Linked DNA regions of Homo sapiens. The protein of the gene in region 1 purifies or fractionates together with the protein of each later gene. This does not show direct contact. Each region holds a gene or a part of one and is shown on either strand. Other genes may lie near its edges. The genes, in order: DENND1A and LIMA1.

Evidence for each region.
Region 2: the proteins of DENND1A (region 1) and LIMA1 purify together in Homo sapiens (affinity purification with mass spectrometry; 2 studies listed by BioGRID and IntAct, with this or other methods). This does not show direct contact.

Annotation. Positions count from the first base shown.
Region 1 is NC_000009.12:123,926,917-123,935,228, reverse strand, and holds the start of DENND1A (DENN domain-containing protein 1A), read left to right. Parts: upstream 1-5,102; 5' UTR 5,103-5,304; coding exon of another isoform or gene 5,305-5,323; coding exon 5,324-5,340; intron 5,341-5,563; exon of another isoform or gene 5,564-6,572; coding exon of another isoform or gene 6,573-6,634; intron 6,635-8,312. UniProt on the Homo sapiens protein: Guanine nucleotide exchange factor (GEF) regulating clathrin-mediated endocytosis through RAB35 activation. Promotes the exchange of GDP to GTP, converting inactive GDP-bound RAB35 into its active GTP-bound form.
Region 2 is NC_000012.12:50,273,219-50,280,594, reverse strand, and holds part of LIMA1 (LIM domain and actin-binding protein 1), read left to right. Parts: intron 1-7,376. UniProt on the Homo sapiens protein: Actin-binding protein involved in actin cytoskeleton regulation and dynamics. Increases the number and size of actin stress fibers and inhibits membrane ruffling. Inhibits actin filament depolymerization.

The DNA.
Region 1 (8,312 bases):
AAAAATAGAAGGTGAGCAAATGCACCAACTGAATATACTAAGTTCAAATTTAAGAAAGCACTTCCCAAATCTTGTTCTGTGGCTTATTATTCTTGAGGAATGTGCCTCAAAATAAGGGTTTTGTGGTTGTTTAGTTATTTTTTCAAAAAATATTTACCGGTCACTGCCTGCGTGCTAGGCTCTGTACTAGATGTTGAGAAGTAGGTATGGACAAACCTGATGTGGTTCCTCTCTTTATCAATTTGACCATTTAGCAGAATAATATTCCCATTCATTGAAAACCAAATATAGAGCAAGAAGCTTAAATTCTTCATTTTGTTTTATCTTTGTAAAGTGGGTATTATCATCCTCTTATTAAAGAAGAAGAAACCAAGGCTCAGAAAATTTAAGTAACATTCTCCAAGTTCACCCAACTAGCAACCTGGGTCCATCTGGCTCCAGAGTCACAATAACCAAAAGAAGAAAGCAATCCAGGATGGGCGCCGTGGCTCACGCCTGTAATCCCAGCACTTTGGGAGGCTGAGGTGGGCGGATCACAAGGTCAAGAGATTGAGACCAGCCTGGCCAACATGGTGAAACCCTGTCTCTACTAAAAATACAAAAATTAGCTGGGCATGGTGGCACACGCCTGTAGTTCCAGCTACTCATGTGGCTGAGGCAAGAGAATACCTTGAACCCGGTAGGTGGAGGTTGCAGTGAGCTGAGAAGTGAGCTGAGATTGCGTCACTGCACTCCAGCCTGGTGACAGAGTGAGACTCAAAAAAAAGAAAACAATCCAAAAGTCCATCAGCTAAAACCATTGAAATGTACACATTTAAAGTGGTAAATTGTATGGTTGGTGAACTACATTTCAATAAAAAATAATATAATCACAATTTAACGTATTAGGAACAACAGACCACTGAATCCTGGCACACAGACCATTTGTTCTGCTATTTCGTATTGTATAATTGGGGGCCAATAGAGCTCCCTGGGGTTGCTGTCTTCCCCTCAATAAACACAGCTCCCTAAATTCCAAGCAGAGAAACCAAACAGGTACAAAAGAGCAAGAGCAAGCTTGGAAACTGAGGAGCATCAAAGTGTCAATGCAGGTGGTATCATCCCTACCGTTGGACTTTTATCTGCTAGATCTGCTTAGCCTATTTTGACAACAGTCAAGAAGGCAAAGTTCCTAAATCCTTTCTCTTCACCAGAAGATTTACATTCCAACAATTGATTATGGCATGTATTTGGCACAGAGGTCTCATTTCATTTGAATGACGTCAGATTCACCTAGGTTTAAAGGAATTATAAAATCAATCAGCCACTGAATTATAGAACTTTAGAACCCAAAAGGACTTTGGAAGGAGGTCACCTGGCCTGATTCTCTTATTTTGGTTAAATCTGTGGCTTGCTCAAAATCACATAGCCAAGCATGGCTGAGCCTGCTGGGTGTCTTGCAATATCTATCCTCCCCTTCTTTCCTGGAAATGCCATTCCCTTCTCCCTACCTTTCAGCTGCGGACCTTATTGTCTGGTTGTCTGGAATAAAGGCTGTATTTTCTAGTGAGGTGTGGTTGCATGACTAAATTCTGGCCACTGGGATGTAAATAGAAGTGGTGTGAGTAATTCCTGGGAAGTACACTTAAAGGTCAGAGTTTGACGTGGACAGATCCTCCTTCCTTCCTGCAGGCTGGGCTGCAGATTAGATAGCTAGAGTTTAAGCAGCCATCCTGGACTATGAGGTGGAAATTCTTCCTGGAGAATCGGAGAGCAATAAGATAGAATTCTGGGTCTCCATTAATTATAGAATTGTCATACCAGCTCTGGAATGTTAATCGCCAGACTTTATGTGAAAGAGAAATAAAATTCTATTTTTTTCAACAATTGTTATTTCACTTCTCTATCATTTACAGTTGAATTGAATTCTAACTGATACAGAACGTGAACAAACAAGTTGGGCTGAGAACTCAGGTCTCCCGAATCCAAGCATGGTACTCTTTATTATTATGTTGATCAGTTTTACAAAATGTATTTATTTATTTCAGAGATGGGGCCTCGCTATGTTGCTCAGGGTGGAGTGCAGTGGCTATTCATGGGCATGATCATAGCGTGCTGCAGCCTCAAAATCCTAGGCTCAGCCTTAAACTCCTGGGCTCAGCCTCCTGAGTAGCTGGCACTACAGGAACAAGCCACGGAGCTGGGTACTTTTTTTTTTTTTTTTTTGAGACGGAGTTTTGCTCTGTCGCCCAGGCTGGAGTGCAGTGGCATGATCTCGGCTCACTGCAAAATCCGCCTCCTGGGTTCACGCCATTCTCCTGCCTCAGGCTCCCATGTAGCTGGGACTACAGGTGCCCACCACCACGCCCAGCTAATTTTTGGTATTTTTTTTTAGTACAGATGGGGTTTCACCATGTTAGCCAGGATGGTCTCCATCTCCTGACCTCATGATCTGCCCGCCTCAGCCTCCCAAAGTCCTGGGATTACAGGCATGAGCCACCATGCCCGGCCTTTGTTTTTCCTTTGAGACAGTCTTGCTCTGTTGCCCAGGCTGGAGTGCAGTGGCGTGATCTCGGCTCACTACAACTTCTGCCTTCTGGGTTCAAGCGATTCTCCTGCCTCAGCCTCTTGAGTAGCTGGGACCACAGGCGCCTGCCACCACACCCGGCTAAATTTTTTCTATTTTTTAGTAGAGATGGGTTTTCACCATGTTGGTGGTCAGGCTGGTCTTGAACTCCTGGCCTCAAGTGATCCACTCGCCTTGGCCTCCCAAAGTGCTGGGATTACAGGTGTGAGCCACCATGCCCAGCCACTGGTTGCCTTATTAATTTTAATAATAAAAGCCAAACGGTGCTAAGTGTTTTGTATATAATAGTTGCTTTTAATTTTTGAGTACTTAATATGTGATAATCACTGTTTAAATACTTTATAAATGTCACTAACTCACTTAATCCTCGTGTCAACTCACTAAAATAGGTCTATTATTATCACCATTTCCATTTTACAGACAGAGAACCTGAGACACACAGAGAAGGAATAATTCACCCAAGGCCATATATTTAGTAAGAGGTAGAGCTGAGATTTAAACCCTGGCAGTCTGGTTCTAGAGCCTGTGCTCTTTGCTCCTATGTTACACTCGCTCTTATGATGGAAGCTTCTCATCACTCTCTCTGCCCATTTTACGGGGGAGGAAACTAAAACATACACTTGTCTAATCATTTGCATAAAATCTGCCAGTCAATGCTGAAGCCAGAATTAGAAGCCACGTTCCTAACTCCCAGTCCAGTGCTCTCTCCTCAGACCACCCTGCTGTCTCTGAGGCCACCTGAGCAGACACATAATCCCCACCTTCTACCTCCCTCTCCAACACACACACACACACACACACACACACACACACACACACACACCCCACCCAGCAGGCACCCAGACATATTTGTGGCCAGGATGGCTACAACCTCCTTTGAAAAGCAGCCAGCTTTGCCCTCCACCAATAACTTTGTTTTATTTATAGTCTCCTGCTCAGAGCTTTTGAACTGGCTCCCATTCCAGGGAAGATCTTGATAGCAACTGTTCCTTGGAGAAGTTTCATAGGTGAATAAACACCACAGAGCTCCTGCCTGTCTAGCAGAGCTTTGCTCCTGGGGGTGTTTACAAGTCGGTATTGGTGTCTGGGTGCATAAGACTTTAAATTCAAAATGACAGTTTGGACATTTTCACTTTTTTTTTGGTTTTCATTTTAAAAAGTTTACCCTTTGACTTCAACAACCTAAAGGCAGAGGCAAAAGGGAGAAACTATCTTTATTCAGAAGGTGACTCCAACAGAAGAAGTCTTCTACGACTTATCTTCTGGCTTTCTTTCCTCCCATCCTGGCCGGGAGCTAGGACGCAGGACCAGTTACGTAGAGGCTATGGGGTGGGGGTAGGGTGGGGAGGCACTCCATGCATTTATAAGAACTAAAATGGCAGAAGTGATGAATGGCATTTCGGGACAGAAAATTGGAAAAAAAAAAAAAAAAAGGAAAAAAAGCCTAATATTAAAAATGTCTTTGGACTTGTGGCCAAAGGTGCCACCTTAAAGCATGACTATGTCACAGGTGTCTGGAATGATTCAGTCTGGACACTAATCTTGGCTTCTTCACTCGTTGCTAGTTATGTGACCTTGGGAATGTGGCTCAGTTTCCTCTTTGTAAATTAGGGAGATGAACACAGGATTATTGTGAGGATTGGCACTAATGATGTACGGAAATACTGTGTCTGATGCAGAAAGGGCACTCACCCGCTCATTAAAGGGTGGCTAATGGTAGCTGTGATTATTGCTTCCTTTATGATCCCTCTGGCCCTAGAGGGGATGAAATTGAGGTGTTCATGGAAGTGAATCCCAAGGGGGAGCAGGGGTAGGTAGCAGGCTGGTGATCTCGGCTCTCAAATCCTTTCATTTGCATTGAGTTAATCTCTATCAGGGACTGTTGTGTTAACAGGAGGCTTCGATGTTGGAGTTCCCAAAACGGCTGATAAAGGGAGGCAGAGGTCCTCAGCGGGAGGGCAGAGCTGAGCCACCACGTGGGTCCACGAAGCCCCCAGGTGGCTTTCCTGTAGGTATGTGGGGTCTCCTTCAAGCTCTAAGGGGAAAGGAAGAGGAAAGGCCTTCAGATGGGGAAGTGGACGGTGTGATGGAGAAGAGGTTCTGCACGGAACTTACTGGAAGGTGCGGGATGTTAAAGGGAAAACGTGTTTTCATGGAGGCCTGGGCGGGGGATTAGCTCTCCGTTAGAGAGGCTGGGTGGGAGGCCTCCAATGGGAGGATTGGTGGCGGTTTCATCGGGAGGGCTTGGGGTCTCCATGAGAGGATTAGGGTCTCTTCAGGGCGGCTGTGAGTGGAGGTTTCCAGCGGGGCGCAGTGGGGTGCAGATGTGTAAGGGCCTGCAACGGAACGCCAGAGTCCTCCGGGGCCCGCGCCCTGGGAGACGTGCGGGTGACCGCGCTCCCGCCCCGCCCCCACCGGCCACGGCCCCGCCCCCGCGAGCGGACTACACTTCCCAGCAGCCCCAGCGGGCAGCGGCGGCGGCAGCGCGGGCGGGAGGGGCGGTGGTGAGAGGCGGAGGGGGCGGCGCGCGCCGGGCACGCGCGCCGGCGACCATGGCGTTCGCCGGGCTGGAGCGAGTACATTAACCCCTGGAGGCGGCGGCGGCGGCGAGGGAGCGAGCCTCGAGCGGGCGGGCCCCAGCCTGAGGGAAGGGAGGAAGGGGCGGGGAGAGCGCCAGAGGGAGGCCGGTCGGCCGCGGGCGGGCGGGCAGCGCAGCGCCGAGCGGGGCCCGCGGGCCCATGAGGAGGCCTGGGGACCATGGGCTCCAGGATCAAGTGAGTGCGGCCGGGCCGGGCGGAGCCGGGCCGGGCGCGGGGCGGCGAGGCCGGGCCAGGGCTGCAGGCCGCGGGCCGCGCGGGGGACTTGTTGCCGAGACCAGAGGGGCGCCCCGCGTGACGCCGGCACGCGGGGAGGGGGACGGTTGCTATGGCGATCCAGGGAGGCGCGGGGGCGGGGTGCGCGCGGGGTGGCAGGGCGCCGGGGGTCAGGTGTCCCCTCCTCACCTGGGGGTCGGAACAGCTGAGATTACAGGGCGGCCCCCTCCCCGGGTTTACGGAGAGCCCCTGAAAATGGTCCTTCAACTGTGGGGAAGGGGAGTGGGAAAGCCCCGGAAGCACCTCCCCATGTTTGGGCATGTTTGGGGCGCCCCTGAAAGTTGGCAGGTCCGGAGAGGTTGCAGCCTGGCCGCTTGAGGCCTGCGGCCCCCACAGAAGTCGCGTGAGGTTCTTAGAGGGAGGGGCCGCTCATGGTGTGGCCACCTAAGGTGTGGATGGCCGGGGAGGAAGGCCTGTCTCTCTATTTCCCCCCTCTTATCTGTGAAAATCTCCACGCAGCAAGGTCCAAAGGCTGTGAAGGAGGATACCTCTGTGTTGTAACCGAGCACCTGCTCTTGATAATCGTTGGAAAGGCTTTGTAACTCAATCTGGCGAATTCCCTCACTCATTCATTCACCTGGAGTTCCCGGTGGAGGGTTAGCTTTCCGGGGAAATTGTTGATACATGTAACTTCAGAATCCACTGAAACATTGTTGCTGTCCTTGTAGACTTAGAAGTTGACTTTGGAAAGTGCAACTCTTAAGCGGTCCAATTTGGGTGTGTGGCTTTCGACTCTATCTCCCCTCCCAGCCAGGTCCTCTTGTGGCCTCTCCCTTCCTCTGCCCCAGAACTGGAGATGTTTTATCTCTAATTACTAACAAATGTTCACTTTTTCCTCTGTGACTAATAGAATTGTTTAAGGGCATTAAAAAGCAAAGTTGACAGCATAGGCTTTTCTGTAAAACAACTTTCCTAGGACACTTTAAACCCTCTTACAAGAAAGTTTGTGGAATGTGTTTATTTCAGCATTTTGAGAATTGTACTAGGGAAGTTTGAAAGGAGAAGGGCCTTAAGGGTGAAACTAATAATTATTCAAACATTGCATCTCATGTCCAGGTGATGCCCGTGCAGTGTGACCCTTGCCCAGCCTTGCAGTCCCCCGTGTGGTTAGGCTTCTCATTTACAAAATATGTATGAGATGCGCTGCAGCAGCCTTGAGACATCTGCTGAATGAAACTAGAAAAGTTTGCTTATGGTAATGAAAATGGAAGAGTCGCATGAACACTCTGTTAAATCTTTATTTTTGTGGAAATGAGAAAAAAGTTAGAAGCATGCTCCAAACAAGAGCTTGAGAGGCTTGGGAGGTAAAAAGATGTCGTTTGTGAAACATTGGGATTAAAGAGGCACTCAAGTTTAGCTCCTGCTTCCAAGTAAGAGTTGTAAACTTGGATTTCAATAGCACTTAGAAACACTTTCCAGAAGCCAACTTAGAGTTGCAGAGTATGCGTGAGGACACTTACCCTTCTTGTTACAGAAAAGTTCAGAAACTTGCCTGACATGAAGCAGTGAGTGTCAGAACCAGTATTAAAATCCAGCAAGTAAAAGTTCAGATGGCTAGCCATCAAATCTCTCTGTTGCTCTCCAAGGTAGCAGGTTGACAAATACATTTCTCAAATGTGTTTTGTGGAACCCATCGCTAATTCTGAGCACTTGGGTTAGGGAATTTACTAAGGCATGGAATTGTATTAAGCGTGAAATGAGTATGAAGAATAGCCTTATTGATCTTGAAACTAGACTACTCTGTGATAAAAACTTAGGCTTGGGAAATATGTTAGCTTGTGGTGAAACCGAAAGAGAATATGAAGAGAGAAGTTATGAAAAGTAGTTGTGATTTATAGTGACTGTTGATTATGCAACTTCTGCCTGTAGCTAGGAATGGGGATGGACAGGAAATTACCCACTTAAGTGCTCCTCTAGTTGTTGGAGAAGACAGAGCTTTGGTTACTACTGGCTGGCTTTCCCTCCTGGCAGGGCATTCAAGATGTTCTCCTGGCTGTGGTGAAATCTAAGTGTGCAGGTTCCATTGAATAGGACAGTCTTGGAGGTAGGGACAAGGGGGAGGGGTTCCTTTTGTTTTCTCTTGCTTATCTCTGATGCAGCAAGTCAGTTGACTAGGTGGAATCAGGTCTAGGTTCAAATTCCAGCTCTTTTTAATGCTAATTATGAAACTTTACACAGACTGCCTTTTCAACCTCAGTTTCCCTGAAGGTAAAATGGGGAGGACTGTGTCCAGGTTGTAGGGTTATTATGAGCATTGAACACAGTATCAATGTAAATGTCAGGTCCATGTTAAAAACTCAGTAATTGTTAGGTTTTTTTCTTTTTTTTCACCTTCTGTATCAAAAGACTAAGAACATTACTGTATATTAGAAATGTCAGAGAAAGGTATGTTTAAGGTAATGGAGAAGAAAATTTTAATGACCAAGGAATTAGGCTGTTAACATGCAGAGTAGGGCTTAACATTGTCTCATTATTAAAAAATAAAAGTTGATTTAAAACAATATTGTGTGTAATTGTGAAGCTGGTGTCTGTTGTGTGATCAGTGGTAAAGCACGTGAGTTGCTAGGCACAGGTGTTGAGATTTCGTGTTTGATCAGACTTCTCTTTTAAGTTTAAGCCTGGTTGAACACAATCTCTGTCAGGTACCGTGGAAATCCTTAATGTGAACCATTTCATGAAACCCTCACTACTGTCCAGTGGTGGCGATGCTATTTATTAACCACATTTTTCAAATGAGAGAATGGGAGTTTATAGGCCTAAGATCAGATGCCATCCCCCAGACGCCTGCCTTGATGCCAGTTTCCTGTTGCCACCCCCACCCCCTCCTGTTCCAGTCTAGGCCAGGTGCCCTTCATCCGTGTTTCTGTGGCCCC
Region 2 (7,376 bases), on another chromosome or scaffold:
CATGTCAGATGATTTCTTGACACGTGAAAACTTTCTAGAGACTTCCTGTGTCCACTCATAAGAAGTTAACATGATACCATGAAAATTTTACATTCTTTTGATGTTCTTTTAAATAATTTCTTAATACTACTACCCTGGGCCGGGCGCGGTGGCTCACGCCTGTAATCCCAGCACTTTGGGAGGCCGAGGCGGGAGGATCACGAGGTCAGGAGATCGAGACCATCCTAGCTAACATGGTGAAACCCAGTCTCTACTAAAAATACAAAAACAAAATTAGCCGGGCGTGGTGGCAGGCGCCTGTAGTCCTAGCTACTCGGGAGGCTGAGGCGGGAGAATGGCGTGAACCCGGGAGGCGGAGCTTGCAGTGAGCGGAGATCGCGCCACTGCACTCCAGCCTGCGTGACAGAGTGAGACTCCGTCTCAAAAAAAAAAAAAAAAAAAAAAAAAAAATACTACTACCCTGAAACTAAGAACTTTCATCTTTAGGGGAAAAAAAGATGCAACTTTTTTGTACTTCTGATAACAAGTGTGGATCTATTTTCCCCCTTAATTATTCTGTAACAGAGTTTATGATATGGAAAACTTTACAGTCCTTCAAATATGTTTTGTCTTGCACAAAGTATTGCCATTTTTGTTTCATTACCCATAAATTAGTCCCAATATCCGCTTTACTTAGTTTTAGATTTCCACAATCTTTTTTTTCTCCATAAACTGAAATTCAAGCTAATGCCCCGGGACTTCTTTTATTTCATAGTCAGTTTTACTAAACAGGTAACATTTGCTCAGCTTTGGCGTCTGAGCAAAAATTTGGCTTCCAGCACTACAGGAAAGCTGTCTGTCCATGCATAGTATCCAGTGGTTTCTGTCTAACGGTCCTTACCCCTTGGCAATAACTGACCAAGTGAACAACTTGTCTAGTTCTTCCTTTCATTTGCTTTTCTTGACATGACTACTATCTGGTTCTCCATTTTCTAATCTAACCACTTACTCCCATGATCCATTAACTCAGTCTTTTTGCCCCTTAAATGCCGGGTTCACCATAGCCCTGCTCAGCTTCCTATTCTCACTATACTTTCTCCCTTTATAATCTGATTTCTTTCCATGACTTCCACTATCACCTCCATGTAAGTGGCCTGAAAATTTATCTTTTTAAAAAACTTCTTTCATATTGTATATATAATTGTTTTATTTTCATATATGCCAACACATTTAAAAATAAAAATTATAGATATTTATATTATTATAAAATAAAAATTATATATGTTTATTATAGAAAATGTGGAAAAAACAGGCCGGGTGTGATGGCTCATGCCTGTAATCCCAGCACTTTGGGAGGCTGAGGCGGGTGATCACTTGAGGTCAGGAGTTCGAGACCAGCCTGGCCAACATAGTGAAACCCCATCTCTACTAAAAATACAAAAATTAGCTGGGCATGGTGGCGCATGCCTGTAGTCCCAGCTACTAAGGAGGCTGAAGCAGGAGAATCCCTTGAACCCAGGAGGCAGAGGTTGCAGAGAGCCAAGCTCATGCCACTGCACTCCAGCCTGGGTGACAAAGCAAGACTCCATATCAAAAAAAAAAAAAGAAAAGAAAAGAAAAAAAGAAAATGTGGAAAAAACAAATTATAAAGAAGACAAAATAACCCATATTCCATAATCTGTTCCAGAGAGATCTATCATTTGATATATTTCCTTTCAGTGGTTTTGTTTTCTTTGATATACACACACTCACATAAACACAAAGGTAATTGAACTCATACTGTTGCAGTAGATATAGTTTTGTGTCTGCTTTTTTTGCTTTATATTATTTTTCATAGCATCAAAAATTTTTGAAAACATTTAAATGGATATTTAATCTCCATTGTAATCTATTTAATAATTTATTATATTGAGGTTGCATAATTTATTTGTGTTTTGGTTTTACATTAAATGAAAACAATTGAGAACAAATTTATGCATAAATCTTTGTGCAAATGACTCATTATTTCCTTAGGTTAGATTCCCAGAGGTTGAATTACCAGGTCAAGGAGTGTGAAAATTTAAAAATACTAAACCTGCTCCCAAATTGCTTTTTGTAAAGATTAGACTAATTAACATTCTCAACTGCAGTGATTGTGAGTGCCCATCTTAGTGCGGCCTTGGTAACATTGAATATTATTATTATGATGATTTTTGAGATGGAGTCTCGCTCTGTCGCCCAGGCTGGAGTGCAGTGGCACGATCTCTGCTCACTGCAAGCTCCACGTCCCGGGTTCATGCCATTCTCCTGCCTCAGACTCCTGAGTAGCTGGGACTACAGGTGCCCGCCACCACACCTGGCTATTTTTTTTTTTATTTTTAGTAGAGATGGGGTTTCACCGTGTTAGCCAGGATGGTCTCAATCTCCTGACCTTGTGATCCGCCCACCTCGGCCTCCCAAAGTGCTGGGATTACAGGCATGAGCCACCTCGCCCAGCCCGTCTGGCTAATTTTTGTGTTTTTTAGTAGAGACAGGGTTTCACCCTGTTGATCAGGCTGACCTCAAGCCCCTGACCTCAGGAGATCTGCCCACCTCGGCCTCCCAAAGTGCTGGGATTACAGCATGAGCCACCGCGCCCGGCCCGAATATTATTTTTTAATCTTTACTAATTTGATAGGCAGAAATGAATTAATTTGTATTTCTTTGCTAGTGAGAGAGAACATTTTTCATACATTCATTTCTGTTTCTTCTGTGAATTATGTCTGGGTTAATCCCACTCCCATTTTTATTTGGGCGTTAACATTTTAATTATGTTGGTTTTTTGTTTGGTATTCTTTTATTTGGAGCGTTTTGTGGGGGAAGCACAGGCTTTTATTAGACCAAATAGAGTGAATGGAGTGACAAAGTGGAAAGTATACAGAAGTTGGAATTGTGGTGTTATAAATGCCCATTGTTTTGAGGGGCCAGAGCTTGTGATCAATGAAGCAGTACTGCAGAATGGAAAGGGTGCTATTTGAGAGTCAGGATTCCCAACTTAATGTTGTCATCAACCAATCAGGTGATCTTGGACAAGTCATTGATTCATTGACTCAGAGCCTCATCTGTAAAATGAGAGGGTTGGGCTTTTGATCCCCAAGACTGGACAACCTCTGTGCTGAAAGGATGCCTTTGGAGCTACTACTGTTCACTAGACATTCTGGAATTACTTTCTGTCTCATCTCTAACCTTTCACCTAATTTTAGATATATAGAGCCTGAGGAAAGACTGGATGCAGTAAAGGCAGTGTCCACCGGAGTAGCAAGGGGAGCCTGGGGACAGCTTAATTTGTTTGTGCCCTTTAACTTTCAGGAAAATAGAAGTATAAAAAAAAAATTGAATGGGGTTCTTGCTGTGGGGGTTGGGGGAAGAAAAGAAAAAAAAAGAAGTCAAAAAGATTGGTATTTTTTTAGGCACTCCCATAGACTGACACTTGGAAACTGGTAAGATAAAATCACAGAAGCCCTGCTGACCTGTGCCACAAAACTCGATTATCTACAATGTATGTGAAAAATGTCTCATTTTGTGACTAGAGGGTGTACGTCTCCAAGGCAAGTTATTTAACAACTTCTTCTACTTCATACAGAACCATTCTTAGTGTTTTTCTTTGAGATTGGTATAAACTCTTCTAAGAATATTAATTTTTTGTCCTGTGGTCAAATATTTAACCAGTTTGCCTTTTAATTTTGTATATAGTATATTATTACTTATCTATAGATTTTTTTTTTTTTGAGACAGTGTGTCACTCAGTCACCCAGGCTGGAGTGCAGTGGCACAATCTCGGCTCACTCTAGCCTCCTCCTCCAGGGTTCAAGTGATTCTCATGCCTCAGCCTCCCAAGTAGCTGGGATTACAGGCACATGCCACCACGCCTAGCTAATTTTTGTATTTTTAGTAGAGACAGGGTTTCTCCATATTGGCCAGGCTGGTCTTGAACTCCTGACCCAGGTAATCTGCCCGCCTCGGCCTTCCAAAGTGTTACAATTACAGGCGTGAGCCACCACACCCAGCCTGGATTTTTAAATTTGAGATTTCTTCTGGTGCTGTGATGTTTAGAAGGCCTTCACCATCCAGAGATTGGTTAAATACTCACTTTCATTTCCTTCTGATTTTTACCGTTTTACACTTTATATTTAATTCTTTAATTTGTATTGAACTTACTTTGAAGTACCAAACCAATATGTTTAATGCCTTTGTATATCTGAGTTCCAGATCTGTATTTCCAGCTACCTGTTAGGCTATGTGGATAGTCCCTGTACGCCATGCATCTGCGTACACCCAGATTCACTAAGGAGAAAGCTTGAGGTTGTACTTACCACTTTAATACTTTTCTCCACCCACATTTGATCAATCCCCAAGTTTGGCTGATTCTGCCCCAGGGGTGATAAGAGTTCTTTAATCAGTCTTCTAATTCAGATTCCCCTTTTAGTTTTTTGCCAGAGTCCTTGAGTCCTTGAGTAATCCTTAGAGTTGGCTTCAGTTTTTCCCTTGCAGAAAAGTTATCAGAGTTGTCATAAAAAAAAAAAGCACTGATTTTCAAAATATGGTTCCTTTAATTGCCTGTGTTAGAATTACCTGGCAGTGGTTAAAAAGGTAGAGTCTCAGGTCCCACCTAGACCTGCAGATCAGTGTGTCTGAGGGATGGGCCTGGGAACCTGAAGTTTATCAAGTACCTCAAGAGATTTATATACAAACTTAAGGGGAGACAATGCCTAAGTAAATTCAGTCTAGCTTTCTGACATGCTCTTCAAGACACCCACACCCCCACTCTGACAGCCTATTCTTTTAGGCTTATCTCCCACAACACGACCCACCCACCTGGCACTGTGACCCTACAATAATTCTCTGTTTCCTGGACCTGCCCAGTTCTTTCCTGCCTCTGTGCCTTTGCTCATGCAGTTACCACAGCCTCATGCTCCTCCCCTTCCCCACCCTCTTGTTGAAATCCTTTTCCTTAAGAGCCCAAATCAAATGCTACCTTTTTAAATTTTTTTAATAAAAAAAAGCCTTTTCTAATTTCTTCTACTTGAATCAGTGGCTGCCTCCCCAGTCTTTATACTTAACACTTGATTTTTGCTTCATTTCTTACCTTACTTAATGTTGTCACTATTTATAAATTATTGCTTCCTTGTAAGATTACAAGCCTTTTAGGTATGAGAACCTTTCCCTTCCTTTTCATTTTGTGGCCATTATGCACATATAAACAATTAAGAACTCATTTTATTTTATTATTTTGAGACACAGTTTCATTCTGTCCCAGGTTGGAGTGCAATGGCGCAATCTCAGCTCACTGCAACCCCCACCTCCTGGGTTCAGGTGATTCTCATGCCTCAGACCTCCGGAGTAGCTGGGACTACAGGCACGCGCCACCACGCCTGGCTAATTTTGTTTTTTTTTTGTATTATTAGTAGAGACAGGGTTTCACCATGTTGGCCAGGCTGGTCTAGAACTCCTGGCCTCAAGTGATCTGCCCACCTCAGCTTCCCAAAGTGCTGGGATTATAGGCATGAGCCACCGCACCTGGCCAAAGTACTCATTTAGTACATGAAATATATCTGATCTTGCAAACACACTTTTATATAATAATGTTTGGCTTTGTATCACACATAGAATAAAATTAAAATCCTTTAGCATTGTTATTAATCCGTATTTAATCTGACTACTACTCATCTCTGTGTCATCGCATGCTTCTCACTTACTTCCTAGCTGTATTATTCCTTCCTCAGGGCCTTTGCATTTGCTTTCCTCTACCTGGAAAACTCCCCCATCTATTGTCTTCACCTTGCTGGCTGCATATGTTCTCCCCATCATTCAGGTTTCAGTTCAAATGTCATTCACTCAATGAGGCCTTCCCTGATCACTGCCTAAAGAAGCTGTTCGTGTCCCTGTTCCTACCACAACTCCAGTTACTCTTTTTGTATTTCCTTCACACCACTAATCACAGTCTTTAATTGTCCGGCTTCTCCAGTGGAATGGAAATTTCATGAGAGTAGAGACCATGTCTGTCTTTTTTTTTTTTGAGATGGAGCCTCACTCTGTCACCCAGGGTGGAGTGGAATGGCACGATCTTGACTCACTGCAACCTCCAACTCCCAGGTTCAAGAGTCTCCTGCTTCAGCCTCCCAAGTAGCTGGGACTCCAGGCACCTGCCACCACACCCAGCTAAATTTTTTATTTTTGGTAGCGACAGGATTTCACCATGTTGGCCAGGATGGTCTGCATCTCTCGACCTCATTATCCGCCTGCCTTGGCCTCTCAAAGTGCTGGGATTACAGGCGTGAGCCATCGCGCTCGGCCTTGTCTGTCATTTTTAACATTATATCTTCAGCACTTGGAATACTGCCAAAGACTTGGTAAATGCTAAATAAATATTTGTTGAATGAATGAATAAGCCTTGAAGATGGACTTTTCATTTGGACAAGTCTTGTTTTGTTTTGCAATCCAAAGTGTTGTATTTTTTTTAACTGGACAACAGCTGAGGTCGGTCCATCTGGGTTCAAATCAGGTAGCAGTCTCTGAGGAGTTCGGAAGGTAGCAGGACAAAAGTTTGGATACTGTGACAACCAGGATTAAGTTCCATCTGAGTGCAAGTTTTCTAAGGTGTTTCCAGGATCCAGGCCACTATTTTCCTACCACTATAGCCATCTACTTCCCAGATTGTTACTCTGGATTATACTAGTCTATCAACTCCTATTACATTTTCAAAAGCCAGTGTGGCAAAACTAAAACCCAATTACTGGAATCCACAAACAACCAGAAGTTTTCTTCTGTTTTCATTCTCTAGGAGAAAAATTAGAAAGCTATCTAGAATCTTCAAGAAAAAATGAAATGATTTTCATTATACTTACTATTAACACATGCTCTGAAATGTGTTACTGTTTAGACACACTGTTTAGACAGTGTACTGATTAGAAAGATTTTCAGCAACAGCTTTAAACAAAAGGTTTCTTATTAACATCTAGTTGAACCAGACATTATAATGAATTAGTTCTAATTTCTATTTCTTTTCATTGGTTAGTCTTTTTTAATTCCATTTTTTTTCTTAATGCTGGCTTGAAGTTTTATTTAAAATAATGCTTTGTAGAGTAGCTGACAGTTTTCAAAGTACTTTTGCTTTTATCCTTTCATTTAGTCCTCATAAGCATCCTGTGTGAATCAATACCTGTTTTTGAGATGAAGAAATTGAGGCCCAAAGACAGTGATGATCTTTCCCCTGCCAACTGAAAGACCACTACCCAGCAAATGCCTCTCAATAACTATTTTCTACAGTCCCGAATTAAATGTAGCTTTTAGAAGCTAATCATTAAAATTCAATTGAAACAGTAACATTAATATGTTTATAACCAGGCCAGGTGTGGTGGCTCACGCCTGTAATCCCAGCA